Linked DNA regions of Homo sapiens. The protein of the gene in region 2 interacts with the protein of the main gene of each other region in a pairwise test. Each region holds a gene or a part of one and is shown on either strand. Other genes may lie near its edges. The genes, in order: PPIL4, CHERP, FIGN, SNRNP27, AGGF1, FRA10AC1 and CLK3.

Region 1 (4,792 bases), on a different chromosome or scaffold from region 2:
ACTTATTTAAAATGGTAAAAAAAGTAGTTTTAAAAATTCCACAAGAGTTCAAAAGATTGTTTCTGGCTAGGGAAATTAGAAAACCTCAGGGAAGGTTAAGGCAAGCATTAAAAGAACTGGACTAGCAGAGAGTGAAGGGTGAGCATTTTAGGTCTGGAAGACTATGAAAAGGCCTGGAAGTGGAAATTTAAATGTTTTAGGGGAGGTCCAAAACACCAAAGTTCTGTAATAGTCTGGTATTACACAGTAATAGAGCATGAAAAGACTGGAGAGATAAGATGGGGCTGAGCTGTTGAAGAGTGCTGAATATCAGTCTTGCAGTTGTTTTTCTTGAATATATTTCTGGGCTTCATGTTTAACAGATAGGGGTGGTCCTTTTACTAGAAACAAAAATAATGAATTTAGGCAATGATCATCAATGGCTGCCAAAATCTTTAGGTCTTTCATCAAAATCCGATGGGAACAATTTATAAGCGCAACAAGGCCTTAACCCACTGACCAATTTTAACATCACAGAGCCAACCAGACATCAAGTGCCTCCTGAATGTGATGCAGCTGAAAGTACACACTATCTTATATGAAATATTCTTGCCAAAAACATTAAACTGGAACCTAATCAAGGCTCTGAAGCTAAAGAACAATTTATAGGAAACAGGGGACACAAAAATATGTTAACGCACCCAGTAAATAATCAGTCGAATCCAAACAAGAGAAATTCTACAAGACAAAGCACCCAGGTTGTTTCTCAAAATTTTTTCAAGGAAAAAAGGGGGAGAACCAATAGATTAAAACATATATGAGACATTTTAACCAATATATGGACTTTGGGTCCTAATTTAAATCACCATATTTTTTAGAAGTTTATGAGATAATAAGAAAGTTTAAATGATACTAAAAATTATTGCTAGTTTTTTCAAAGTGTGATAAGATCTGTGGTTCTGTTTTTTTATTCTTTTTTACAACTTTTTCTCTTTCCTTTAGTATTTTTCCCTTTTCCCTGTCAAGTTTTTTTTCTTTTTTAACCTGTCACTTATGTGGTACTTAAGCTCATAGTTCCATTTTTTCTTGTTTTTTTTAAAGAGACGTTATATTTTAGAAATACATACTGAAGTAATTACAGATTAAATAGATGCACTGGAGGTGGGGGTATTATAAATGAAGCAAGATTGGCTATGTGTTCACAGCTGTTAAACAAAGCTGGTCATGTGGACATGAGAGTTCATTTACATGATTCTCTCTACATCTGTGTTTTAAATTTTCTATAATAAAAAGTTAAAAAAGAAAAGGAAGAAAGAATGGAAGGTAGGTAAGTCTGGATATGTTGATCATAGATTGATAAGTGAGTATAAATATAGCAGGTACACATGTAAGCACATCTCCAGTCATATGCTTACAAATATGTACAGGGGGTGGACTTATTGTTATGGGCTTATCTTTGCAGACCCACTGCTTGTTAATTGGGTGGGGTAGCTCTACACCCCTTTATTTCCTCATAACTCTGGGAAAAGAGGCCCATTTATTTTGCCAGGTGCTACTCTACATGGGCAGAGCGTCAAAGGAACTCAAAGAAAAGCAAAATCAAGAGATAAAAAACAAAATTCCCTATGATATTCTTTGAAACACTCGATCCAGCCACTCGATCCAAGCTTACCCCAGTATTATGAGGCAACCAATTATTTTGTTTATGCCAGTTTGAGTTGGGTTTCTATCACTTGAACAAAGGGTCCTAACTAATACAACACATTTATATCCATTAGTCATCATAATGAACCTCTAGTGTGTGCCCTAAAAGTAGCAGACATTGTACTGGGTACTCAGGATATAGAGATGATAATTATGGTATAGTTCCTGCTCTCATTGGAGTTTACATTCTTGAGCGAGGGCACGCTTGTAAACAACACCAGGATAATAGGTAAATGTTAAAATAAAATGTGTCATGTGGTTTATAAAAGACCTAAGACACAGCAGAGGAACCCTCAGGTAACTCTGCTTAGAAAGGAGGGAGAGCTTCAAAGAAGAGATGATGCTTGATCTGAGATTTAGATAATAAGTAGTAAGTTTGCCAGAAGGACAATAGTGGAGAAGAATATTGTTTAGAAGAAACAGCAAAAGAATGGTAACAATGGTACGGGAGAGTTTGTAGTGTTTTCGCCAGGTGGAGAGGAGGGAGGAATAGCTGCGTGCGAGGGAAAGCGGAGCACGGCAGGAGGTAGTTATTGTACAATATTGCAACTTATTTCACCTTCTTTGATAGGCTCTGCATTCCATGTGGGTAGGACCCTGTTTGTAACTAATCTCTCCTGGTCTCAGTTTCTTCCTGACTCTGATACATTCTCCACACCGCTGCCTATTATCTTCTCAAAACAAGTATGCCATGCCTCAATCCTGCTTTTAAAGTCTTCAAGGACTCTGATCATCAGTAGGGCACACAAGACTATTCACGACTGACCTAGGCGTATCTGACCACACTCGAGTCTACCATTCCACGACTCACACCAGTCCTTCCAGCCACACCAAACTACTTGCCGTTTCCAGAAAATTCCAAACAAAGAAAGTCCAAGCTAAGAAAACCCTCATTCCCATTCATCTTTGAAAGAACTAGTTCAAGTGTTCTATATAGTATTCGCTAGCTTTGCTTCTTCCCACCCCCCACCAAAGAAGCCGCCCTCTTCTGGTTTCCGTGGCAACTTACACATTCTTCTACCATAACACATAGAAAACTAAAATGGGTTCCTGTGTCTACTTCCCCCAGTGGAAAAATCAGACCCTCGGGGGCAAGAAGCCAAGCCCAGGACTTAGCCCAGTGCCTCGAAGGCTCAGTCCACACTCCAGACAACCTCTTCCTCCTCCACCTAAGCGGTATGCCCACACTCGCTGCGCCAAGCACACCCTAACTGCCTTCATCAAGATTTAACCGATTACACACCAAGCAATAGTTCCTATGTTCCTCTCACGAGTAAACACAATAAAGGCACAAAAGCTATGGGTATTGTATGTGCAGCTCGAATCACACACACACACGCCCCACACACACACTCCCAAAGGCAATTAATGACCGCAAGCACCGTCCACCGGACTGGCCAACACAAAATACGGGAGAAGGGCTGCCAAGGCTCAAACGAATTCCCGTCACAAAAACTTTTCTAGCCAAGGCCGGTTAATAAAATAGCCCAGTCGCGGGCACCAGCAGCCCAGAAGCTCGAGCTCTAGCCAATCTCTGCCCTGGACTGCGCAGAGAAGGGAAAGTAGGGAGACAAGCTCGGGGGCCCCGGCGACAGGTGAGTGGGGCTCAAGCCTCACCACGCGGCCGTTCTTCGGTGTACAAGTCGATGACGACGTCGCCTAAAGTGGTCTCCAGTAGAACCGCCATGGCGCCCGCTCCTCCTCCGCTACAAACCCCGGGAGGAGGGGGGTGACAGGCGCAGGCCGACGGCGTCGTCTACGCCACGCGTCACCCTCGGCGCGACCCCTTTTGCGTCATCTCGCCGGCGCCGCCCCCGGTTCCGAGCAGTTCCTTCCGGTCGGCGTGCGGGCGCCGGGCTGCCCAGCTGACTTACGGATCGGGTTGGTCCCGCCCCCGGCGCGGCCGTTTTGAAAATCCTGGTCCGCCCTTGGCGATTTTGGTGGAAGCCTGTCCCTCAGAACGGTCTCAGTATAGTGTTTTGTGCCCCGTTTGTGTCCGTCTCAAGAGCAGAGCGGCCCTCCGCGCGGCCCTTTTATCCACCAGGGGGCGCCCGCGGCGGGATCTTCTCTCCACCTATTTGGGCGGACTCCTCCGGGTTTCCTCGTCAGTCTCCTTTTCGCAAAACAACTTTGGGCCTCTACTAGGGGTTTCCGATTCTAAGAACTAACATTTTGTTTTGTTTTCTGTTTTGAGACAGGGTCTCGCTCTGTTGCCCAGGCTGGAGTGCAGTGGCGCGATGTCGGCTCACTGCAACCTCCACCTCCCGGGCTCCAGCGATTTTCCTGTCTCAGCCTCCCAAGTGACCACAGGCGCGCGCCACCACGCCCGGCTAATTTTGTTCTTTTATTTTTTGTAGAGATGGCGGTCGGGGGAGGTGGTCTCACTATGTTGCTCAGACTGGTCTCAAACTCCTGAGCTCAAGGAGTTCGAACTCTTCCCGCCTTGGCCTCCCGAAGTGCTGAGATTACTGGCGTGAGCCACTGCGCCTGGCCAAAACTAACATTTTGCCATGCAAGTTTATTCCCCAGACACTCTTCTGGGCAAGCCTGTCACTCTTTCTTATGACATTTTACACATAATCTCCAATAACTTCACATCTGACGAAAAGCCAAAGCTTTTTTTTTTTTTTTTTTTTTTGAGACGGAGTCTCGCTCTGTCGCCCAGTCTAGAGTGCAGTGGCGCGATCTCGGCTCACTGCAAGCTCCGCCTCCCGGGTTCACCCCATTCTCCTGCCTCCGCCTCCCGAGTTGCTGGGGCTACAGGTGTCCGCCATCACGCCCGGCTAATTTTTTGTGTTTTTAGTAGAGACCGGGTTTCACCGTGTTAGCCAGGATGGTCTCGACCTCCTGACCTCGTGGATCCGCCCGCCTCCGCCTCCCAAAGTGCTGGGATTACAGGCTTGAGCCACCGCACCTGGCGGAAAAGCCAGAGCTTTTATAATGATTTACAAGATCCTCTCCTACCCCATCCTACGCCATCTTCTTATTCCTCTGAAGCCACAGTAGACAGTTTGCTATTCCCTGAACACTGCTGACATACTCCTGCCCCATGGCCTTTTCACTTGCCTTGGTTGAGGGACCTCTTCCTCCAGTTATTTGTATGGCTCCC
Region 2 (4,347 bases):
GGGGACCCATGGTCTGTGGAACTGGGAAACAGGAACACTGACTCATGGGTGGACAGGCCTGCAGCCCAGCACAGGAAGGAGGGGTGACCACTGGGAAGGGTGGGCTGAGGGCCCTGTGGCAGCCGGCTGCTTGAGACGTGCCGCCGTGCCACACCTTCCCTAACTTCTTCTGATGTGTCTCCATTAAAACGCCCTTCATTGAGGGCCACGTGTGTGCTGTGCCTGTGACACACACTTGTCACTCAGGCGGGGGGAGGGCAGTTTCTCCTGAGGGACAGCCACATTTTCTAGCCTGGACAGAAGGTGTGGTTGCAGGGAGCCGGGAGAGGGGACAGAGGCCTCCCGCCCACCCCACTGACCTGGGCCCCTTACCTGTTCCTGGGCCTGTCGTGGGACGGGGGGCTGTAGAAGGCCTCCACTGCAGCCAGCAGCCTCTCGCTGGGCGGCATGGGGGGTGGGAGGCGGATGTCTTTAGGGTCCAAAGGCTTGTACTCGTGATCTTCCAGCTGCAGCAGAGAACCCCAGCTGTCACCATGCCTGGGCAGAGCCCTCTCAGGCCCACCCAGGGTCTGCAAGGAGTGGGGTCAGGGCAGGGCCCAGGTTCAGTGTCAAGGGTACCCTGGGCACCAGAGCTCCTCATGCTTCCCTCTTGGGGATCCCACTCTCTTGTAGGACCTCAGCCACACCAACCATGGTGGGTCATAGCTGCTCTGAGGCTGATGACAGTCACAGGGTTCTCTCTTCAGAAAATCACCCACAGGGGACATGGTCTCCAAACTCAGGTGACCTGAACACCCTCTGGTTTATTCAGACATGCAGCGGGCCCCTCACGTCACCCTTTGCTTGCAATGCCTACCCTGGGCCCCCGCTCAGAACAGCCTCAGCCCCGGCCCTGGAGCCCCCTGGCCTGTATCCTTCTTCTGCTCCGTCTCTGTCCTCCTGTTGAGGCCCTGCCCTGCCTGGCTTGCCTGGGCCCCCGCCCGCAGCTCTCCCTGCTGCCCATGGCTCCGTGAAGTCTGCCTGGACTTCAGGTGGATGTGTCTGAGGGGGTGGGAAGTGGCAGTGGCCAGCATGCCCTTGGAGGCCCCAAGCCCCGGCCCTGGCCTCCCCAACCCCCCCTTTTTTTTTTTGAGACGGAGTCCTGCTCTCGCCCAGGCTGGAGTGTAGTGGCGTGATCTCGGCTCAGTGCAAGCTCCGCCTCCCGGGTTCATGCCATTCTCCTGCCTCAGCCTCCCGAGCAGCTGGGACTACAGGCGTCTGCCACCACGCCTGGCTAATTTTTTGTATTTTTTAATAGAGACGGGGTTTCACCGTGTTAGCCAGGATGGTCTCGATCTCCTGACCTCGTGATCCGCCCGCCTCGGCCTCCCAAAGTGCTGGGATTACAGGTGTGAGCCACTACGCCTGGCCAGACCTGGCCCCTTCTTGCCTCACCTCTTGCCCTATGCTCCGGCCATCCCACAGTGGTACCAGCTGCTGCCAGCCCTGCCCGGCTTCTCCAGGGCCACCCCCCTCCCTGTGTGCTTGGTAGGCACAGCTCACAGGTGGCTCCTTCTAAGACATTCCCTCCATCAGCAGCCCTGGGACAAGGTGCTTCTGAGGCCCTGGACCAAGAAGGACGAAGAGAGGACTCGAGCCTCATAGCCTAGCTAGCCCCACATGGCTGAAGCTCCCTGTGGTGGGAGGGATAGGAGGGGCAGGGCAGGGCAGACATGGTGTCGCTCACAGCCACACCGTGCTACTCCGGTTCGGCACCTCCCACTGACGGATCAGGGTCCCTAGGGAGTGGGAGATGAAGGGGAGCCCCGGAAGGCACCCGGTCCCGTGCATTCACTTTTCACAAGGAGAAACGGGGACCAGTATGGTAAGCGTGCTCAGCTTGGAGCCCACTGTGGGGCATTACCTTCACGAGGGGGGCCATCAGCCCAGCAGGGAGATCGAAGTAGGGCACATTGGGGACCAGGCTGGGGTCATCGTGGTTGATGTGGGGTGGGCCCTGTCGCCGCATGTGTGGGGGCTGCCCGTTGAAGCCATGGGGGGGAGGGCCGAAGTCAGGGTGCTGGGGTCCAGCCCAAGGCGGGTGCTCGTTGATGCCAGGATGAGGCATGCGGTGGCCAGGGTGGTGGTGAGGGGGCCCCATTTCTGCAAAACAGAGACTTGCCTCAGGACCACAGGCCAGTCAGGATCTCCCAGGCGACAAGTGCTGGAGGGGAGGGGCTCAGTGAAGGGCCAGGAGACGAACCCCTCCTGGGAGCCTGTCCAGCATCTTCTCTCACTGCTTAAGACCAGGCAGCAAGGCACCGAGGAGCCAGGCTCCGAGGGGCCTGTCCCGCACCCATAGGCACAGCCGAGGGAGCTTGAGGCTGAGAGAAGAGAACCCCAAAACCCCAAAACTGCACGGTGAGGGCTAAGTTGTGACCCTCCGAATCCATACGCTGAGGTCCCAGCCCCCAGTAGCTCAGGACGGAACTGTATTTGGAGACAGAGCCTTCAAAGACACAAATGAGTTAAAATGAAGCCATAGTGGCCCGAATCCAACGTGACTGTTGCCGTTATAATAAGAGATTAGGACACAGACATGTAGAGAGAAGACGGTCACCTATGAGCCAAGGAGACAGGCCTCCAAGACACTAACCTGAACCCGCCACACCTCCACCTTGGACCTCCAGCCCCCAGATCCTTAAGACAATACATTCCAGCTGTTGAAGCCGTCCAGGCTGTGGGACTTATCATGTCAGCCCAAGCCAAAAAGTAAAAGCAATAAATGTGCCAAGCGGTCTTCAAGCTGCATTTATAATCAGAAATGTATTTAAAGAGAGAAGGCTGGGCATGGTGGCTCACGCCTGTAATCTCAGCACTTTGGGAGGCCAAGGCGGGTAGATCACTTGAGGCCCAGAGTTTGAGACCAGCCTGGCCAACATGGCGAAACCCCATCTACTAAAAATACAAAAATTAGCTGGGCATAGTGACTGATGCCTGTAATCCCAGCTACTGAGGAGGCCAAGGTGGAAGAATCACTTGAACCCAAGAGGAGGCTGCAGTGAGCCGAGACTGTGCCACTGCACTCCAGCCTGCGTGACAGTGAGGCTCAGTCTCAAAAAAACAACAAACAACAACAACAAAAGGCCAAGCGAGGTGGCTCACACCTTTCATCCCGGCACTTTGGGAGGCCGAGGCGGGCGGATCACCTGAGGTCAGGAGTTCGAGACCAGCCTGGGCAACATGGTGAAACCCTGTCTCTACTAAAGACACAAAAAATTAGCCAGGCATGGTGGCGCACACCTGTAATCCCAGCTACTCGGGAGGCTGAGGCAGGAGAATCATCTGAATCTGGGAGGCGGAGGTTGCAGTGAGCTGAGATTGTGCCATTGCACTCCAGCCTGGGCAACAGGGTGAGACTCTGTCTCAAAAAAAAAAAAAAGTACTAAAAGATTAGAAATAAAATCAATAACAAAGATACTAGGCATGGTGGCTCACATCTGTAGACCCAGCTACTCTAGAGGCTGAGGTGGGATGACTGCTTGAGCTCAGGAGTTTGAAAGTAGCCTGGCCAACATAGCAAGACCCCATCTCTATTTAAAATAAAATAAAATTTTTTTAAAAAAGAAAAGTAGTTTTTTGTTTTTTTTTTTTGAGACAGCGGTCTGTCGCCCAGGGTGGAGTACAGTGGTGCGATCACAGCTCACCGCAACCTCAGCCTTCTGAGCAGCTAGGACCATAGGCGCCCGACACCACGCCAAGTATTGATTTTTTAAACGAACTAATACAACGGGAAAACTGATGCAAAAAACAAGCAGCAGCAGTAAAAAGAACGAGGCCCCGCCCTGCCCTCGCCACGCCCACCCACGGCAGGAACCTTTTCCTACTGGCTCTGCCTCATCTGCAGCCAGCCGGGCCTCATCAGGGCGGCAAAACTGAGTCTGTGCCCCCACTTCCTGAGAACCCAGGCCGGGCTCCTCGGACGTCCCATGACCCTGTGTCTGTCACTGTGCACTCAGGAGCATGGCAGGGCCACAAGCAGCGCCACCAGCCTGCTCGGCAGGCGAGCCGTGGATGCCTCCGCCAGGCCCTACCCAGGCGCCCGTACACTCACCGGCAGGGAAGTCCCCCTGGGGGTAGTCGAAGCGGTGGGGATAGGGCGGCCGCTCGAAGGGGTGCCGTGGCGGGAAGTCGTCCTGCATGAAGCGGGGCGGGAAGCGGTTGAAGTTGTGGGGGTGCGGAGGCTGGTTGAACTGCGGGTGCTGCTGGTGGGGCGGGAAGGGCCCCCGGAAGTGTGGGGGCCGCTGCATGCGGAAGGGTGGCTCGCGCTGGCCCCCGCCCCAGGGCGGCTGCTCGTGCTGGCTGTTC
Region 3 (4,347 bases), on a different chromosome or scaffold from region 2:
CCTCTTTAATGACAGCCTTCACCAGGTCGAGACCAGCAATGTCATTCCAGTCCACTGGAGGTCCTTGGGTGATAATCTCATTGGTTACCAGGTCGATGAGGTGCGTGTCAGTATTCTTCAGTTGCTCGTCCACAGAGTGGTTGGATGAGGTAGCTGCACGGAGTCCAGGGCCTTGCATTGGGTGAGAGAGGAGCTGCCTGTGCTCGTCCCCATGCTCACTCATTACTGGCGATGTGTACTTCCCAAAGGATTCACTGGATCTTGATCCCAATGAATTTTTAGCAGTACTGTAGGAAGGAGGGGTCAGAGCCCTACTGGACTGGCTGCTGAATTTCCTTTGCTGTTCAGAGGACATTAGCTGCTTCGTTGGCTTAAATGCTAAGGATGATGTTTCAGCACTTCTGTCAAAGCCATTCCCCCGATTTGTGTTTGAAATGCTGTTGTCGGGCATTCTGTACATAGGACTCTGTGTAGATCTCTGTTGGCCATAGCTGTAATTTCCATAACTGGAGTCCATATCTCCTTGCCCTGCCATGTAGAAAGCTTTCCTTTTGAGAGAACTTGCTGAACTGTTTGTCAGAGCCGACGGTGCAATAGGTGTCAAACCATGGCCCTGGTAGGTGTAGCCAGGAACAGTGGTGGGGGGTAGGGGGGTGGGAGCAGGAATTCCTGAAGGCAGGTACGCTGAAGGCGGAGGCGGTGCCCCCCCAGGGCTGTACCCAGACCCCACAGCAGTCTGAGGAGGATAGCTAGCAGACGGATAGCTGTAACTGGAGAGGTTAGAAGTCCCATTGTAGCCTGGGACCAAGGCTGGTGGCGGAGGAGGTGGTGGTGGGGGCTGTAGTAGCCCAGAGCTATGCAAAGGAGACGGATGAGGTGAAGGAAGTGCAGGTGCTGGCTGGCTACTATAAGTAGAATGCAAATATGATCCGTTGTATCCTGGGGCATATTCCTGAGATGGGAGCCCTGCATGAAGACTGGGTACAGTGTGGCTTCCACAGGTACTACTTGAATAACTAGGTTCTGTCAGGTTGCTGGCTACCCCAGGAGAGCTTCCTATACTCGCAGAGACATCTGCTGGAGGGAGGGCTGAACTGACTCCAGCTTTGCTGGCAGTGATAACATCCGGAACACAGTTCATGGGATAAACAGCTTCTGAATTCAAGGAAGGCTGCCAGGGTTCACTTTCATTTTTCCGACCGTTCACTAGTCCTGATGGTGTGTCCGAATAGTTGCTGAGTACGGGTCGGTCCACAGGACCTTCCAAAATGCCGGAATACTTCTCTGCATATTTTTTTAGTAGGTTGGATGCAGTCAGAGCAGATATGTCATCATTCGCCCAGGCGTACTGATAGGTGCGCTGCAGATGACCTCTGTAGGCTTCAACTTTGTGGGCAGGAGACCGAGTGGTTGAGGTGATGTCAAAGTGCTGTTCTGGCCACTGGGCATGCTCTGGCGTCCACTGCATCTTCAAGCCTAAGAATTTTGGGGGGAAAAGAGTTAATTTACTTAAATAGGCATCAGAACTCTTAAAGCTTTTCCCCCAATTTCTTTTGTTACCTATTATTTTCCATTAATGATATGCATACTTTAAAAGATCTACACTGTTTATAATACCTATTATGATCCCTATAATAAGTACTCTTTAAAATGGACTAAACTTCAGCCCTGTTTAAAAAGCACACTGAGTTTAAAATATAACTCTGTAGTTACCTATATTTTTTGCATTTGTAAGGAATAAGTAAATCTATTTCTGTCAAGCCCATCAGCTTACCTACTATACGCACATACACAATCACATATATATGTACACACACATTCCTGTCAAATTAGAATTCAATCATAGGTTCTTAAAATAAGCAGACATTTTAAATATCTTGCACATGGCAGTATTAACATGTACAATATCTAGCTATTCTGTCTGTTCACATCACAGTTTGTTTTACATTTTAAGCAATATAAAAATGAGACACAGCTGACAGATCACATCTAGGATACCTCTCTTATTTGGTACTGAACACCTAGTTAGCACAGTATAATGCTCCCTGCGCAGAACAATATGACACAGACATAGCAGGTCATTCCATAATCCAACTCTCATCTAAAGTGGTCCACGACAGTTTCAAATCTGCTTCGTGGAGTGCAGCAAAGCAATCTCCCAGGCAGCGCTCCATCGCTTTCATCGCACAAAGCCTACAACTCGGTATGAATTACAACTGGCTCCTTTCTGCCTCTCAGTTCTGTTGTTGAGTCTCTGAAAAAAAAAACAAGCATCACTTGTCTGTCGGTCTTCTAGCGTTCTCCCTCCTTCTCTTATAATCCCTCCTCCCCTTACAGCCTGCAAGGTACTAAGAGGGGAGAATGTGTGTGTGTGTGTGTGTGTGTGTGTATTTATACACATCCTGTCTTATACATCTTCATATATATATATATATATATTATATATGAGAGAGAAAGAGAGAGAGAGAGAGAGAAAGGAAACTGAGGGGAAAGGGAAGATAAGAATGGAGAGAGATTCTGGATTCTAACTCTTTCAATTTCTATAGGAAACCACGTAGGGCATACGCTAGAGGAGTACAAGTAGATAATGAGATGGTCTGGGTAATTCTATCATCTGCTGGGTTACTAAGTGAAGCAAAGTTGACTATGTAGCAAACTACAAAATGAGCATTTTCTCATTTAAGAAAAAAATACTAAGCAGTCAGAATAATTTGAATTTTAAATTGTAAAGAGACTTTAGAAATTACTTTATTTCACAGATTAGGAAACCAGGGCCCAAAGCGATTTATAATGTACCCTCGAGGTCTCACATACAGTTAGTTACAGAAGAGGACTGGTACCCTGTTCTCCTTTTTCCCATTGCTGGCTCATCTCAGTCTAATCTCTGCTTGGTTTAACACTTCCTATTCTGGTACAGCTATATTAAGCATCTCTCCTTCATCTTTTTTGTATTACCCAAAGTGAATTTTGCAAACTGTCTTGTGCCCTCTGGCAGAGATGCCTTGATAAGGAGGAGGCCTGGTCTACATGAAGCATCTGTGGCATCAACCCCCTTCTGAATTACTACAGTCTATTTTGTCAGTTTCTACCCCCTTCTGTGCTCTTCCTCCAAGCTCTGTGGCTCTTCATTGCCTGACTCTGGCTTCTGACATGGCCGGCTCTGACTTACTGCGATAAACTGAACATAACACACAGTTTGGTAACAGAATGGCATGTTGATTCCCTTCTGACTCCCTCTTCCTTGTTTGCAAAACCACTGCACCAGACACTGGAAGTTAATTAGCAGGATGATGCTGTGCTAATTGTGTTAATTTACAAGGTTTTAGTCAAAGAGAATCATGCCAGGGCTGGCACTGCTGTCATGCTTCCGACTTAATGATTAAGAAATACTGAAAACAAGGTGGGAAGGATTGCAGTAATTACACAATAAATGAATAAAGCAACAGGATTCATTTGCAAATATATTTTACTGCAATTGTACTCATTTGCATTTTGATTTTTAAAAAGGATCCATGTAGATATTCATTTGCAAATCACAACTCAGTTAAATTAAGTCTGAATGCTGCACAGTGTAACTTAATCAACCTAAATATATGTATATACATATTAGTAAAAATTCTAAAGACCTCAGTTCTCTTGTACATGCAACAGATTCTTTCTTCAATTTCCCTCAACTACCCCCAAAATTCATATTTATGTTTTAAAACTTTATATATTATTAAATAATCTCATTGAATGGGAAAATAGTATTATAAAATCCTGATGAAATGCAGCTTGCATCATTTCACTCAGAGAAACTCTGAGGATGAGTTCCAGGGAGAACTAAAGTGGTATTCTTAATTATTTCTGCTTTCTCAATCATTACTTTTTAAGGGGGAGGAAAACACACCGCAAAATGGGTGAAATGACCGAAACCACACTTAAAGGGGAAAAGCTGCAATTTTAATGAAGCAGCATTTCAGGAATCATACTTTCATTAAATTCAACTGGAAATTATTAAGAGCAAATCACCAGGAACCAATCGCAAGTAATCAGTATCTAAATGCTTCTAGTGTCGTGGGATTTACTTCAAGCCTTATAAAAAGGAGAGAATATTAATGTGACTGTAATGTAGAACTGTCTAAGAGACCTACAAATTCATTAGTCCTGTAAATTATTTCTAGGGAATTTCTATTATGGTTCTTTTCTTTAAAATATTATCAAAATACAGAGTAGAGAAAATAAGAACACACATATGCTGTGAGTATAAATGTGATTAGTTTGATACAGAAAAACGTGAAAAAAAAAGTCTTAAAGGGCTCAACAAATAATTTAGAAGTACAGGCAATGGAATTTAGCACAACACAC
Region 4 (4,347 bases), on a different chromosome or scaffold from region 2:
GTCTGTCTGTTTCTAACATCTTTGCTTATAAATATTAGATCTCCAAGACGACATAGATCCACATCTCCTTCCCCTTCTCGACTGAAAGAAAGAAGAGATGAGGAAAAGAAAGAAACAAAAGAAACAAAGAGCAAAGAACGGCAGATTACTGGTAATGTTATTAGATAAATAACTGTAGGAAAAGTACAGTGATGATAAAATTATAAAAGTTTAATCTTGAACATTTAAATGTTAAGCCTTTTATAGTATTCATTGCATATGGTTTTGAGTTTTTTTTGGTTTTTTTTTTTTTGAGATAGAGTTTCATTCTTGTCACTCAGACTGGAGTGCAATGGCACAATCTTGGCTCACTGCAACCTCCGCCTCCTGGGTTTAAGCAATTCTTGTGCCTCAGCGTCCCAGAGTAGTTGGGATTACAGGCACCCGCCACTATGCCCGGCTAATTTTTGTATTTTTAGTAGAGACGGGTTCTCACCATGTTAGCCAGGCTGGTCTCAAACTCCTGACCTCAGGTGATCCTCCCGCCTCGGCCTCCCAAAGTGCTGGGATTATAGACGTGAACCACCGTGCCCAGCCTGAGATTTTGTTTTAATTGCACCCTAGCAAGTTGCTGGTTATCTATGGTGCTCCTGATATAGAACGATAGTTAAAAACATGAGAATATTCTATTTTGGAAGTGTCTTCAGAACTATATAGTGTCATGCCTGATATTAAAGGTAGTCCTTAATATGAAACCCAGGTTTTTTTTTAAAAGGTAATCCTGTCTAAAGGCTTCAAGGAGAGGACTTTTTTTTTGTACCATAAGTTACATTCTGTCCAAATGTAAGAGGAATTTTTTCATTAGACTCATCTTCAGCTAATTGTTTTGTGTGTTCTCTGCTAGTGAGGTGGAATGACTATTAATCTGTTACCACCTCTCTTTTTATTTATGTATATATTTGAAATGATAGAGAGGTCACAAAATTATTCTTTTTTGCAGAGGAAGACTTAGAGGGCAAAACAGAGGAAGAAATAGAAATGATGAAGTTAATGGGATTTGCCTCCTTTGACTCCACAAAAGTAAGTAAAACGTGCAACATTCTCATTTGAATTAATATGTTATGACTGTCCTATCTTTCCATGTTCTTTTCCATTTATACAAATTTATTTGGTTATAAGACAATAACTATCTGTTTGAAGGGCTTTGAGAATACAAAGGAGGAAACAGTGAACTGCCATTGGAATTCAGGGAGTGGTTGCCAGGGACGATGTTTGAATTAGATTTTAAAGGACAAGTAGAAGTGATCAGACAAAGAAGAGGAAGAAGATTATTTCAGGTAGAGGGAAGAGCTCATGAAAATGCCATGTAGGTGTAAAGGAGCATAGTGTATTGTGGGAATTTCAGATTCGACCAGGGATAAAGGGGTGCTGATGGGCTAGTGACTTAGGCTAGAAATAGAGGTAGGAGGCAAATCACAGAGGGCTTTTGATGCCCTTAGTCATGCTAAGGAATTCAGAGTTTATTCTTTTGGTGTTGAGGAGAGGAAGTAGTGATTTTTAAATAAGGGAGTGGCATGGTTATATGTGTGTTTTGGAATAATGACTCTGGGGGCAGCATGGAGGACAGATGGGAGGTGGGTTAGATTGAAGGCAGGGAGAACTGCTGATTTGTGCAAGTGAAAGATGATAAAGGCCTGAACTGAGTTGAGAATGATTCAGGAGCTGGGGGAAGTGGGAGTGAGTAGTTAGTAATGCCTCTCAGGTGTCAGGCTGGGACCCTGAGTGATACAGTTAACCCAGAACAGAGTTTCTGGAAGGGGAACTGCTGGGAAATGGAAGAACAAAATCCAGCTGCCAGATAGAGATGACATTGGGCAGCTGCATACTTGTCTCATAGCTTAGAAGTGGGGTGGATAGGGGAGGGAATGCTGTCTAGCCTTCATAATAGCAGAGAGATGAGGGAAGAGGAAAAAGAGGGAGGGATTATATAGAGGAGGGAGAGCATAGAGCGAGAGATGGGGGAAGAGAGAGATGGGTATAGAGAGAGGAAATGAAGAGAGGAGAGGGGATGGAGAGAGGGAGGGTGTGTGGAAAGAAAAACATATTTTTTAAAATCTCTTTTCTAGAATTTTAAGTCTTTCCATTTAGTTTTGCAAATGGAAATAGAGATGTTTGAGAAAAAGTTGTCAAAAATAATCCACTTTCCCAAGTCTTGTATTCCATTGAGTTGCTAATGGAATGGGGTAATCTCAGTGGCTGTAAGTTTCTTTCTAACTAATGTGACTGTGTAGGGCTCACATGTTTTAAAATGACAGTGTGTAACTTAGGAGTACTGAGGCATGACTGTTTTGAGGTGAGAAATTAAGAACAAGCTCTTGTTCTTGCAATGGTTATGTGAGCTCTGTTTTGGAATTTAATGAAGTTTATTTATCAGCTTTTTTCCCTTGAATGCCCTAAATTCTTATTTATTTTCCAAAGACTATTTTATAAATGAAAGTTTATTAAGATATATGTTGGGTGAAATGTAAGTTTATTAAGATATATGTTGGGTGAATTAAAATATGTCAAAAGTAAAGCAACTATAGTTTTATTGTCTTTAGAAGAATGGGGAGGGAACTTTTTCCCCAAAGAAAATGGAATTATTTTCTTTGTTTTTTGGTTTTCCTGTTGCTGGATGTTAGGTTTAAAGTTCCTGAAAGTCAGATCTAAGGGTGGTGCCACCCATCACTTAAATGTAGTCAGTGAAGAAGATGTTTGCTTATAAAGGAAAACTTAGGTGAAAAGTCATAGATCTTAAAAAAATTATGGAGTACCATCACACTAATTGATGTCAGTTTTTTAAAATGACATCTACAAGGATGTCAATTTAGTTTATATGCAGTTGGCTTCATGGCTATCAGTTATAACGTCAGCTCATTTGTGTTTTTAAGTAATGTGTGTCTTGTGATGTTTCATCATTGATCTATTGTGGGACCTCTTCATATGCCAGTATAGTCACCCATTTTCCTTTCTATTTGATTGTATTTTCATTTTTTTATTTGTATTATTTTTTATTTTAATTTTATTTTTTCGAGACAGAGTCTCGCTCTGTTGTCCAGGCTGGAGTGCAGCGGCGCAATCTCGGCTCACTGCTACCTCCGCCTCCTGGGTTCAACCGATTCTCCTGCCTTGGCCTCCCAAGTTGCTGGGATTACAGGCGCCTGCCACCACGCCTGGCTAATTTTCGTATTTTTAGTAGAGATGGGGTTTCGCCATATTGGCCAGGCTGGTCTCGAACTCTTGGCCTGAAGGGATCCACCTGCCTTGGCCTCCCAAAGTGCTAGGATTACAGGCGTGAGACATTGCGCCCGGCCTCATTTTTTAGTTTTTTAGAGACAGGGTCTTGTTTTGCCACCCATACTGGAGTACAGTGGTATGATCATGGCTCACTGCAGCCTGACCTCCTGGGCTGAAGCAATTTCCCTGCCTTAGCCTCTGGAGTAGCTGAGAGTAGGCACATGCCGCCACGCCAGGATAATGTTTTTATTTTTTGCAGAGATAGGGTCTTGCTGTGCTGCCTAGATTGGTCTTGAACTCATGGCCTCAAGAAATCCTCCTGCCTCAGTCCATTTTTTTTTTTTTATTTTTGAAGAGACAGAGTCTTCCTATGTTGTCCAGGCTGTACTCAAACTCCTTGGCTCAAGAAATCCTCTTGCCCCAGCCTCCCAAGTAGCTGGGACTGTAGCCTCACAGCAATGTGCTTGGCTTTTCCCTTTCATCTTATTAGATTGGTGGAAAAGTAATTACAGTTTTTGCCATTGAAAATAATGGCTAAAACTGCAATTACTTCAATAACATTTTTCTAGATGGTTTCAAAGTTTGGTTTTGTTTATTAATGGATAATTTTCTATGCCAGCATGTAAATAAATGAGGATAGGGCTAATAATATGCAATTCTGCAAATAGTTTCCAGAAATCAGTAAACCTTTAGGAATCGAACTTTGTAAAAAGGTTATCATCATTTACTTTTTTGTGCCCAAGACCAGTCTTTCTAAGTCATGCTTACTTCCTATTATAGGGAGTTCAAAATCATATACCTCACAAGTAATTTGTTCAGGACTTACCTTCCACCTCCAAAAAAATACATGAAAATAGGAATAGAAAAGTAAGACCAAATACATTTATTTTAGCCCCACTTCAAATATACTGTTCGTCTGTGTATGCCTTTTGGCCAGTGGGTCAGAATCGGTCTTTGCCCTGACACCAATATCTAATTAAGTACACTACACAGATAGGCTAATCTTGCATAAGTAGTAATGGGAGAGGGAGGAGGTGGGGGTCACTTGTATGTGTCACGACGTTAGCTGATGATACTCATCTAAGTCATTTT
Region 5 (3,012 bases), on a different chromosome or scaffold from region 2:
AAACCAAATATAAATGCTGAATATACAGTACATAGCAACAGATTCTTCACAGAAGAAAACAATGAAAGACTAATTTTCTACAATATGTTACCTGTTCATTAGTTCTTCAATAACATTACTTAGGCTATTTCAAGGATAACAAAATGTATGCGCCACTACCCATGTTTTCGCAACATTTTTTACCTAGGTTCTAAAGGGAATAAATGAGGATGCATATAGTCAGATTTATTTTTATAAACTTCTGATGTTTCTTTTGTTGTGCATCTTACATGAATATATGGAGACAAGAACAGATGTACACTTAAGTCATTAGTAGTTCTATGAATTTTGCTTATATGGCTAGTTGCTTATATGGATGTTGTAAATGACAAGATAAAATAACGAAGTTTGATAAACTCATCCGTGCCCTGTGAACTTTAGTCTATTTACTGCATAAATTGGTTCAGTCACTATTTATTAGTTTTAAAAAAATGGTTTTTAAAAGCTGCAAACCATACACATTTCTGAATCAGGAAGAGGTAAACTGTGACATAGTTCCCCTGTGCTGCTGATTCTTTTGGGGAGAAAAAATAAGTTTCCAAATTCTATTTTTAAAAAAACTAGAGGTTTTTTTTCTATGATTAGCCTTCACTCTAAAGTCCCTTTTACCCAAGGCATGGTCCCTGGGTCATCTTTTTGAGGCTTAGTTTCTGGGAAGTTTTCAGTAAACCGCTCTCGTGCTTTGTCCCAGTTTTTTTTGTTCTTGTTTTGGAGAAGGTGAACATCTTCAAATGAGGATGGTTTGCCTGTCCCCAAGCCTGCATGTGTTCGCCGAAGCTGAAGCTGGATCTGTTACCAAAAGTTGAGCAGAGGACTTATTTTAGAGTCTAAACACATTGAAATCTGCTGTGTCCAACTTAGGACTCTACAATTTTTTGATTTATTAAAGATTGATGCAAAAGAAAAACCTGTCAGATGCATCAAATACATACAGGAATATATATACCTTTATACATGGAACTTACATTCATTTTTCTATGTTGTCTTGCCTTGTCAATAAGTACAGCCTACTTTACAGAAAATAGAGTGCTCCTTAACTAGCAATCACCAAATTTCATTTAGATGCTGCAGAGTATGTCATTCCACCCTAACCAGAAATAAAGGCAATGGATATGTTTAAACCCACTGTCCTATCCTTATCTAAGTAAGTGAACAAGCAGGTTAAACATTAATAACCATAAAAAGAATTTGATTGTTTTCATAACAGGAGGGGAGCACTTCTCAATATTTTAAGAACATTCAAAGCTACCATTTACTGAGTGCCTAATGTAAGGTACAATGCTTAGGGGCTTTATCTTCAAGACAACCCTGAAAAAGAGTTCTTATCCCCATTTTTTCATAAGAAAACTAAAGTCCAAACTTGCCCAAAGCCACATAGCTAGTAAATGATAGAGCACATATTCTAACCTAGGTCTGACTACAAAATCCTTGTTCTTTCCACTGTACCTCAAAAAAAATGAGAAAGCTGGTATATACTCACACTGATCCATCTATTATTTCTTTAGGTACTAAGTTCATTATCCAGAAAGTTCTACAGTCAGGTTACTTATTAAGGTTTGTGTGAAAGATAACCTAAACCTCCTACGAACCATGGGACCATTAATTAAACCACTATGTCATTTTCCAGAGATTATTCTCTATATTTCATGTTACATGCTCTGATTCTTGAACCAAACAGATTTTTCAGCTCATACACAATCCACCTGTTTGTAAACTAACACTGTGATTGTTCTTGAGTGCTCTGACAGTTATTAAAAATGACTCTAAAACACAGAAGAACCTTTGGCTCAGGAAACAGCACTTCTCACCCTAGCTTTAATGTAGGGAAAAAAACTCAAAAAGAGGCTTTCTAAAAATATAAAACACAAAACAAAGCACATGTATATATTTGGTAATTGTGAATGCCACAAAGGCAGTAATCATGTCTCCTTTTGCTTTCTACTATATTCTTAGCACTTAAGGCAACGTTTGGCACATTAATGTACACGGTAAATGTCTGCTCTAGGAATAAATGAATAAAAGAAAATCCAAGTCTTACCGGCGTTTTCATTCCTCCACCATCCTTCCCCAGGCCCTCTCCTTTCTTCCAACCCATCTTCTCCAACATCTTCCGACCTTTGTTGCTATCAGTAATTTCACTTTAAGGAATATTAAAATGATAGTTGATTTATAAAAGATCTTTTAGGTCACATTTATAATAAATTCATGAATTAAAAGTAATTGGTACAACTACTTTAGAAAACCGCTTGGCATTACCTAACAAAGTTGAAGACACACAAATTCCACTGGTACATATCCTACTTAGAAAAGCATGTGCATGTGCACCAAAACACACATACAACAATGTTCTTCCAGCAAATCTAATAGCAACAAATCAGAAATGATCCAGATGTCTGGCAATGATTAAAATGGATAAATTGTGGTATAGTGATACAGTAGAATATTATTCAGCAATAAAAATAAACCATACCTAACAAAATAATGTGGAACACAAAAAATATAGACACAAAATAAATACTGAATTGTTCCATTTCATTAAAATTTTAAAATAAGTGAAATTAATCTATTGCTGTTAGGATGGTGATTACCTTTCGGGAGGACAGCAGGACAGTGATTAGGTGGGGCACAGGGAGAATAAGCTTCTGGGGTTACTGATAATTTCCTATTTCTTGTCCAAGAAATGTGTATTCTGCAATATGTTAATCTTATGATGTATCATTGAGCTATATACTTATAATTTGTGTAATTTTCTGTACATGTTACATATTAAAAAGTTCAAATTGAAATAAAACTTCTTAATCAGTTTGCATTTTTGTCCTATGATTCTATACTCTGCTAATTTAAGAGTATTTTATGTTCTATCTTTTCAGTTCCACAAAATATGCTGTTAGCCCTTCAGTTAATAACCAAGCAATGTCAAACCAATGTGTTTTATTTTAAATTTGTCTTATTTAATTTGAATGCACTCTTTAT
Region 6 (4,347 bases), on a different chromosome or scaffold from region 2:
TGTACTCCTTTACAGATGCATGGTCATGGAGGCTATGATTCTGATTTTAGTGATGATGAACGCTGTGGAGAATCCAGCAAAAGGAAAAAAAGGTAAGTAATTTTTTTTTATTGATCTATTTTTCACATCCTTTCTAGATTAATATGAAGTATAAATAAACAAGAGTGAAATTTTTGAATTCTGTTTACATGTGAAGACAATTGCTCTAGTGAATGAATTTTTGTTCATTAAGCTAATACATTGATTAAAAATTGGAGAACAATTGTGGGAAAAATAAAAATTAATTCTGCAAAGGGGTTTATTGAAAGGGAAAGAAGAGTTTCAGATTTCTGGAATCTTTTCAGAAATCAGTGAAACCTTTTCATTACATATATTTTTCATTCAACTGTCAAGGACTGTTTATTTGTAAATGTTGTAGCTCAGAAGGGGCTTGAATGGTGGTCTCTTGCCATTACTTGCCTTCAAAGTGAAGTTAATATGGAGGATGAAAGTATAATGCAGCACAGTTCTTACGCATACGTGAATGAGCAGACTAAGGTCACGGGAAGAAACTCAAGGAAGGTTTTTTTGAATTGCAAGAGACAAAAACTCTTAGCACATAAAGCCTGTGCGTTATAAGCAGGATACGTCTTGGTGGAGCTGCTGTGCGTAGGAGCATTGTTCTTAGCTTTCAGTGCATAGAAACTCAGTTTTATACTTTGACTCAGGAGTGGTTGACTGATGTATACTAACCAAACTTACACGGCTGTTGACTGATTTTTTTAAGCAAATGTATAGAAATTGGCTTATTATTTCACACTGAGAGCAATATATTAGGCATACTAACAGGTTCTGAACATTTTTATAGGATACTCAGTCTCTGCAATAAAGGATAGTACTAATTATAATAAATTACATTTTTGATGCTTTACATTTTCTAGATTTTTCATTCAAAAATACTACTTTGTAAGAATAGAATTTGAGCAAATCTAGTTGGATACTCTGCTCCAGGATTATATTCATCACTATAACTAGGGCTGACAGTCTATGGCAGGGTGTCCAGTCTTTTGGCTTTCCTGGGCCACATCGGAAGAAGAATTGTCTTGGGCCACGTACTACAGTGGAGCACACACAATTGTGAATCTGTTGGTTCACATTGTTGGCCTGAAGCAGTGCTGGGCCTGCGTAAAATACACTAATGATAGCCAATGAGGTTTAAAAAAATGTGAAAAAGTGTCTTAATGTTTTAAGAAAGTTTACAAATTTGTGTTGGGCCACATTCAAAGCCATCCTGGGCCACATGAGGCCCATGGGTTGGGCGAGCTGGATCTGTGGTTTGTGTTCTCTATAATCAGCCTTGCTTTTTGTGTATCATTAATTACCAAAAACTTCCTTATCACTATGTTACAGATAGAGAAATGAAGAAACAAAGAGATAAATAATTGAATCTTATTAAGATTAAGGTAGTAATTGACAGAATTAGGATTTGAATCAGGAAGCTAGGTGATATGACACTAGAGTCCATGCTTTTGTTAGTTTCATCTTCCCCGTGTTATAGGTATTAAAATAATGTTAAGGTATTAATTAAGCTATTTAAGGAAATGTAAAATATCTCATTAAAGATCAGTGAGTCTTCTTAAAGTTAAGACTTACATTCTTTAAAGTATATTCCAGTTATGAAAATATAAAGAATTAGAAAATAACCTTTGAAAAAAGTGAACTCTTATTTTCTTCTTAATATATCAGGACAGTTGAAGATGACTTACTGCTCCAAAAACCATTTCAGAAAGAAAAACATGGAAAGGTGGCCCATAAACAAGTTGCAGCAGAATTGCTGGATAGGTATGGTATTTCAGTGTCAATTCTATTTCTTGGTTTAAGTTGCTTCGGATTAGGGGATTTGATTATGTTAATTTGAATATAAACATTTTGAATTTTCTTAAAAAAATTTGTTTTAACAGGGAAGAAGCAAGAAATAGAAGGTTTCATCTCATAGCTATGGATGCTGTATCCTTTTTTTATTTCCAGATTTTTATAACTAGTAGAATATTTTAAAATCTGCTTTTTTGTTTTATAAAATCTTGTGAAGTCAAATAGGCTTTTTTATTTTTAAAGATAAGTATTTAGTGATGTAGGATTTTGCCATTTATACTTTTGGGTACAATTCTCTTTTACTAATATATAGGAAAGATTTAGAGACAAAAATAATAAAACATATTACTAGTACTCTATAAATAGGTTTATAAAGTACATGAATCTGCAAATATATTTTCCAAATTGTTTTTTCAAGCTTTCAACATTTCCTTTTCCTATACTTATCTTTAGTCTCATTTTAATTTATTCTCTTCCTACCTGGTTCTTTGCTATTTAAGGTCTCTATAAAACTTGTATTTAAAATTAGGTCTATCCAGTCTGTCCCTGGATCTAAGGAAAAAATAAAAATAAAATGAGGCCTGCCTGTGGACTGTCCTCAGGCCTGCCATGGCTTTAATTTTTAGGCATGACTTAAAGCTATCTTTAAGATAAACCCTGCTTCCTGGTTATAGCCATTTGTCAACTCAGTTTTTTAATAAGACTGGCTGATGACACTAACTGCTACGCTGGCCATCCATACTGCTGTTGAGAATATTGGAGAATTTAAGAGATACCAAGCAAAAACTGAAGTATTTTTGGGTATTTATTGCTGTGATCAGAATTGGGAGAAGGAGACAGTGTCAATTTGATACGCCCCCTACCTGTAATCATCTGTTTCACTGTGCTATTCCAATATTTTTCTTTTAAGTTATAGAAGTACCATTGTGTCACTAATTGATTTATTCTTCTTATCTCCTAACCCAATAGCTAGCTTTTCCATGGATCTCATCTGCCATTTGTTCCTTTAGCATTTAAACATTTGCTCTGCCTTCTCTGACACCTACTGCATTGGGGGCACCTAGTTATAGCCTGGTGAGAGTGAAAGTATGGGTACTCTTTTTTCTGGCATAGGAGGAGTTGGAGCCACAGTTTTTTTTGTTTGTTTGTTTTTTGTTTTGTGTGTGAGGATTTATTTTATTTTATTTTTCTTTATTTTATTTTATTACTTTAAATTCTGGGATACATGTGCAGAACGTGCAGGATTGTTACATAGGGTATACATGTACCATGGTGGTTTGCTGCACCTATCAACCCATCACCCTCACCCTTCCCCGCCCACCGGCTCCAGTGTGTGATGTTCCCCTCCCTGTGTCCATGTGTTCTCATTGTTCAGCTCCCATTTATGGGTGACAACATGTGGTGTTTGGTTTTCTGTTCCTGTGTTAGTTTGCTGAGGATGGTGGCTTCCAGCTTCATCCATGTCCCTGCAAAGGACATGATCTCATTCCTTTTTGTGGTTGCATAGTATTCCATGGTGTATATGTACCACATTTTCTTTATCTGGTCTATCATTGATGGACATTTGGATTGGTTCCATGTCTTTGCTATTGTGAATAGTGCTGCAATAAACATACATGTGCATGTATCTTTATAATAGAATGATTTATATTCCTTTTGGTATATACCCAGTAATGGGATTGCTGGATCAGATGTTATTTCTGGTTCTAGGTCCTTGAGGAATTGCCACATTGTCTTCAATAATGGTTGAACCATTTTACATTCCCACCAACAGTGTAAAAGTGTTCGTATTTCTCCACAGCCTTGCTAGCATCTGTTGTTTCCTGACTTTTTAATAATTGCGATTCTGACTGGGAACCACAGTTTTCTCTGGGTTGTTTGACAAGAGTAGAGTAGTTATTGTCTCAAAGTTGTCTTGCTAGGCTGACTCTTGGTCATTTGGTTAGAGAGAACAGCTTTTGTTGACGATTTTTTAGTCCGTGCCTGTTGGTGTTTCCGGGTTGTCACCTTCTTTACCTCCAATTCTAGGATACATGAGACAAAAAGAAAACCTAGGGAACTCGCTATCATGTCATACCATAGGTCTTCAGGAGGTCCCTAGCGGGGCGCCTTCTTCCTTCCACCTTTTAGAGTCTTTTTATGTTTGATATATAATGTATAAGGATTTTAGTTGTTATTAGTATGAGGAATAGGGAGAAGTACATCTTTGCCTACTCCATCTTCCCGGAAGCAAAAGTTACACCCACCACCTGTTCTTGTACATAAAATTATATTGGAATACAGCCATGCTTCATTTATATGTTGTCTTTGGCTGCTTTCATGCTAAAATGGCAGAACTGAGCATTTGCAACAGAGACCATATGGCTTGCAAAGCCTGAAATATTTACCATCTGGCCGTTTGCAGAAAATGTTTGCTGACCCCAGCTCTAATAGGTTACATGACTTGCCATGGTCATGTGACCAGTTAGTGGTAGATCAAGAGCTAGAATCCAGATC
Region 7 (3,280 bases), on a different chromosome or scaffold from region 2:
GCCTGCGGAACCATGGACTGTCCAGCAAAGACTCACCACATCCAGTACCCTGCTGACCCACAGCCAAGAAGAGAAAGGCCTCTATACCAACCCTGAGGGGGCTACTGGGGTCCTTACCTGGTACGGTGGATCATGTGTGATGGGATGGGCCCTAGGATCTTCTCCATCATCACCAGGTGCTCTCGGTTTTCGTGGGTCTGTGGAAGATTAGGGACAGTGCAAGGGGGTCAGTACTAGCTCTGGCCCCTTCAAGGAGAAAAAGGAACAAGAAAGATGGGCAAGTGCCCTCACTGCCCCAGGACATGCAAACCTACCAATGAAGCGGCAGCCCCAGCTTCTCCTGCCAGCCTGTGCCTAGGCTCCTCAGCCCTTGTGGGTGGAGGTGGACTGGGCTGTGACTACATTTCTCTCTGGTTAGCTCTTCACTCCCTGCCCAGAACATGCCCTGTCCCAGCCCATCCCGATGCCTTTAGTCATCTGTGCCCCTTATCTAGAAGGTCAGGTCACCTCCTACCCCATCCTCCATCCTCGATGGCCTAGCATAAGACTCCTCTGAGTGTTCCAGCTACCCTGACCTCTGCCTTCCCTTTAGCATCTACATCCTTAAAGGGTCTGAATCTCACATGATGATTAGTGGGAGGAGGAAGACACCTGTCTTCTCATCCATGTGGGGCTTCCCACCCCAGTGGCCTGCAGCCTATCACAGTAGCAGTACTCAGGGTAGGGGACCAATGCAGGGTGGCTGTACCTGGAAGAGTGTGAAGCCCCGGTAGTACTCAAAGAGAATGCAGCCAATGCTCCAGACGTCACAGGGCTGTGCCCAGCCCAGCTCTGCAAGCCAAGATGGGGAGAGGCTGTGAGATCCGGCCTTATGCTTCCAGCCTGGAAGTCACAAGGCAGCCACCACACCGGCTGGCAGGACTCTTGCCCAAATCCCAGTACGAGGCCCTCTCTCAGTAAGGCTGACAGATAAAGCCAGGTCAGTCACCTGTGTCTCATGACACTGGCCCCTTGGTCTGAGAAACTCTGCCTGCCCTGGGTGGCAGAGAATGACAGGCATGCCACTGCCTCTGCTCATACCCTCCCAACAACAGTCCAGTATGACAAGGTCACAGGCCATACAGTCACTCACCAAGGATCACCTCAGGCGGGCGATAGTGACGGGTGGCCACAATGGTGGTGTGGTGCTCATGGTCAAATGTGGCACTGCCAAAGTCAGCCACTCGGATGCTGGTGTTCTTCACTGACTTCTCCTCACAGCTCTGAAAGGCAAGGCAGGCCTGCCAGGTCAGGAGTCTGCACCAGCGGGTAACCCACCCCTGAAACAGGGCCTCACCCTTACCCCCACCAATACCTTGTGCTCATTGTAGAGGGTTTCAAACTCAGAATTCACAAACAGGATGTTCTCTGGTTTCAAGTCTGTATGGGTCAGCTGATTCTCATGCAGAACTAAGGTAGCAGGGAAAGAAGGGGAAGTAGGCACTGAGAAGCTGGCTCTCCTGCCAGCTCTAGGCCAGACCCCTCTTCCAATGCCAGCAACTGCCAGAGGTCCTCACACCCCCACCTCAGCAGGGAGCTGGACTACAGCCTGCCTCTGTGCTGGCCTCCCTCTCAAGGGTTCTCTGTACTTGAGGCCTTGGAGGGTTCTGATACTTTAGCAGGGGGGTAGGAAAGAAATTTGCCATTCGAAAAACCTCCCTCCACCTCTCCTCTGCAGAGACCAGGCCTCCTCACCTGTCTCTCAGCAGAGCTACAGCAACAGCCTCGAGGTGGTTCCCTCTTCCCTGCACCAGCTACATAATTTGCAGGGCCCTTTGCAAAATGAAAATGCAGGTCCCCTGTTCAAGTTACTAAGAATATTAAGGTGGTGGCAAAAGGACATTAAATCAAGCACAGGGTCCTGTGCGACTGAGTGCACAGGTCGCATACCCAGGAAGACAGCCCCGCCTCTCATTGCTAGTCATAAGCAGGCAAGCCTTTCCCCTCCAGCCCCTTCTGACAGTGGCTTCTTGCTAGTAGTCACTTTTCAGCTCAAGGATCCCATCTGGCACTCAAGACCCTCACAACTATGTGGCCCACCACTCCCCAGTGGCAGTCTACTCCACTGGAGCCAATTCTCAGCCCGTTAACAGGCTCCAGGCCTCACCAAGCTGTTCCCCTTGCTTGGAATCCTTGTCCCTGTCCCATCTTGCAGATCCTGTGGGAGGAGGAAGACACCTGTCTTCTCATCCATGTGGGGCTTCCCACCCCAGTGGCCTGCAGCCTATCACAGTAGCAGTGCTCAGGGTAGGGGAGCGATGCGGGGTGACCTTGAGCGATTCTAGCTCAACGCCTACCAACTTCACCAAGGAGCCTTTCTGTACTGCTGCAACCATTGCAAATCCTACTGCGCTGAGCCCTGGCACTGCCAAATAATGCTTTTCCAGGCTGGCAGGGAGATGACAAGTCAGGGTTAGACCGAGGGTCTCCATGTGGGCAGGACCTGTGGTGCTATCTGTCAGGTCAGGCTTCTACCTTTTTATCCCATGCATGAAGCAGGGAGGCAGGGTTGGTGGTTAGGCCAATTCCAGAGCAGTTCGTTTCTGTTTTCTTCCTGAGTGCCTGGGGGTAGAGAGGCTGGTCCAGGAGGTCCCTGGAGGGAGCCCTAGCCTTTCCATCCTCACACTGAGATTCCCACCCAAAGACAGGCCTTTCCGCCAAAGGGGATCTGGTGTCCCTCAGGCCCAGGAGAATGGTTAGTAACGTGCTGGAATGAATGGGGACAACAAGTAACCAGATGACTTGGCTGCAGGCATGTGGCTGCCCATGCTTCTTTTGAGGGTGGACACTTACATCTAAGGGCGTGGCAGAGCTGGTAGGCCATGTGCCGGACATGTGGTAGGGGGTAAGGCTGGAAGTTATTCTCCTTCAGGAACTCAAAGGTGTTCTTGCCCAGGAGCTCAAAGGCGATGCACATGTGACCGTGGAAGTTGAACCAGTCAGACATCAAGACACACAGGCTGGAGGAGGAGGATGGGCAGGGCTCAGGCTGTGTGCTGGGGGCCTGCCTCACCCCCTCTCTCAGATGAAGACAGTTCCCAACTCTCTCCTAGGCCACCGGGTCACACACCAGAATGCAGATACACACAGTGCAAGAGAAATCAGAGCAAGAGCACCTCTCCCCACCAGCCATCACCCAATACCCAGATGAGCTCTGGGCAAGGACTAAGCTTCCTGCGGGGGGTAGGGGAGATGTCCACGGTTCTGGTCCAAGCCCTCCGAGCTTCCCTACTTATGATAT

Evidence for each region.
Region 1: the proteins of CHERP (region 2) and PPIL4 interact in a two-hybrid assay, tested with the Homo sapiens proteins (one large-scale study listed by BioGRID and IntAct).
Region 3: the proteins of CHERP (region 2) and FIGN interact in binary tests that used the Homo sapiens proteins (3 or more experiments, as listed by UniProt).
Region 4: the proteins of CHERP (region 2) and SNRNP27 interact in a two-hybrid assay, tested with the Homo sapiens proteins (one large-scale study listed by BioGRID and IntAct).
Region 5: the proteins of CHERP (region 2) and AGGF1 interact in a two-hybrid assay, tested with the Homo sapiens proteins (one large-scale study listed by BioGRID and IntAct).
Region 6: the proteins of CHERP (region 2) and FRA10AC1 interact in a two-hybrid assay, tested with the Homo sapiens proteins (one large-scale study listed by BioGRID and IntAct).
Region 7: the proteins of CHERP (region 2) and CLK3 interact in binary tests that used the Homo sapiens proteins (3 or more experiments, as listed by UniProt).

The regions. Positions count from the first base shown.
Region 1 is NC_000006.12:149,542,636-149,547,427, forward strand, and holds the start of PPIL4 (peptidyl-prolyl cis-trans isomerase-like 4), read right to left. Parts: upstream 3,409-4,792; 5' UTR 3,371-3,408; coding exon 3,301-3,370; intron 1-3,300. UniProt on the Homo sapiens protein: PPIases accelerate the folding of proteins. It catalyzes the cis-trans isomerization of proline imidic peptide bonds in oligopeptides.
Region 2 is NC_000019.10:16,521,149-16,525,495, forward strand, and holds part of CHERP (calcium homeostasis endoplasmic reticulum protein), read right to left. Parts: coding exon 4,094-4,347; intron 2,143-4,093; coding exon 1,904-2,142; intron 507-1,903; coding exon 373-506; intron 205-372; exon of another isoform or gene 1-204. UniProt on the Homo sapiens protein: Involved in calcium homeostasis, growth and proliferation.
Region 3 is NC_000002.12:163,610,331-163,614,677, forward strand, and holds part of FIGN (fidgetin), read right to left. Parts: intron 2,255-4,347; exon of another isoform or gene 2,102-2,254; coding exon of another isoform or gene 1,999-2,101; intron 1,477-1,998; coding exon 1-1,476.
Region 4 is NC_000002.12:69,896,398-69,900,744, forward strand, and holds part of SNRNP27 (U4/U6.U5 small nuclear ribonucleoprotein 27 kDa protein), read left to right. Parts: intron 1-38; coding exon 39-151; intron 152-979; coding exon 980-1,059; intron 1,060-4,347. UniProt on the Homo sapiens protein: May play a role in mRNA splicing.
Region 5 is NC_000005.10:77,060,868-77,063,879, reverse strand, and holds part of AGGF1 (angiogenic factor with G patch and FHA domains 1), read right to left. Parts: intron 2,178-3,012; coding exon 2,078-2,177; intron 829-2,077; coding exon 628-828; 3' UTR 1-627. UniProt on the Homo sapiens protein: Promotes angiogenesis and the proliferation of endothelial cells. Able to bind to endothelial cells and promote cell proliferation, suggesting that it may act in an autocrine fashion.
Region 6 is NC_000010.11:93,695,775-93,700,121, reverse strand, and holds part of FRA10AC1 (protein FRA10AC1), read left to right. Parts: intron 1-15; coding exon 16-92; intron 93-1,725; coding exon 1,726-1,821; intron 1,822-1,940; coding exon 1,941-1,986; intron 1,987-4,347. UniProt on the Homo sapiens protein: May be involved in pre-mRNA splicing.
Region 7 is NC_000015.10:74,625,521-74,628,800, reverse strand, and holds part of CLK3 (dual specificity protein kinase CLK3), read right to left. Parts: intron 3,000-3,280; coding exon 2,833-2,999; intron 1,450-2,832; coding exon 1,355-1,449; intron 1,263-1,354; coding exon 1,133-1,262; intron 832-1,132; coding exon 749-831; intron 198-748; coding exon 118-197; intron 1-117. UniProt on the Homo sapiens protein: Dual specificity kinase acting on both serine/threonine and tyrosine-containing substrates. Phosphorylates serine- and arginine-rich (SR) proteins of the spliceosomal complex.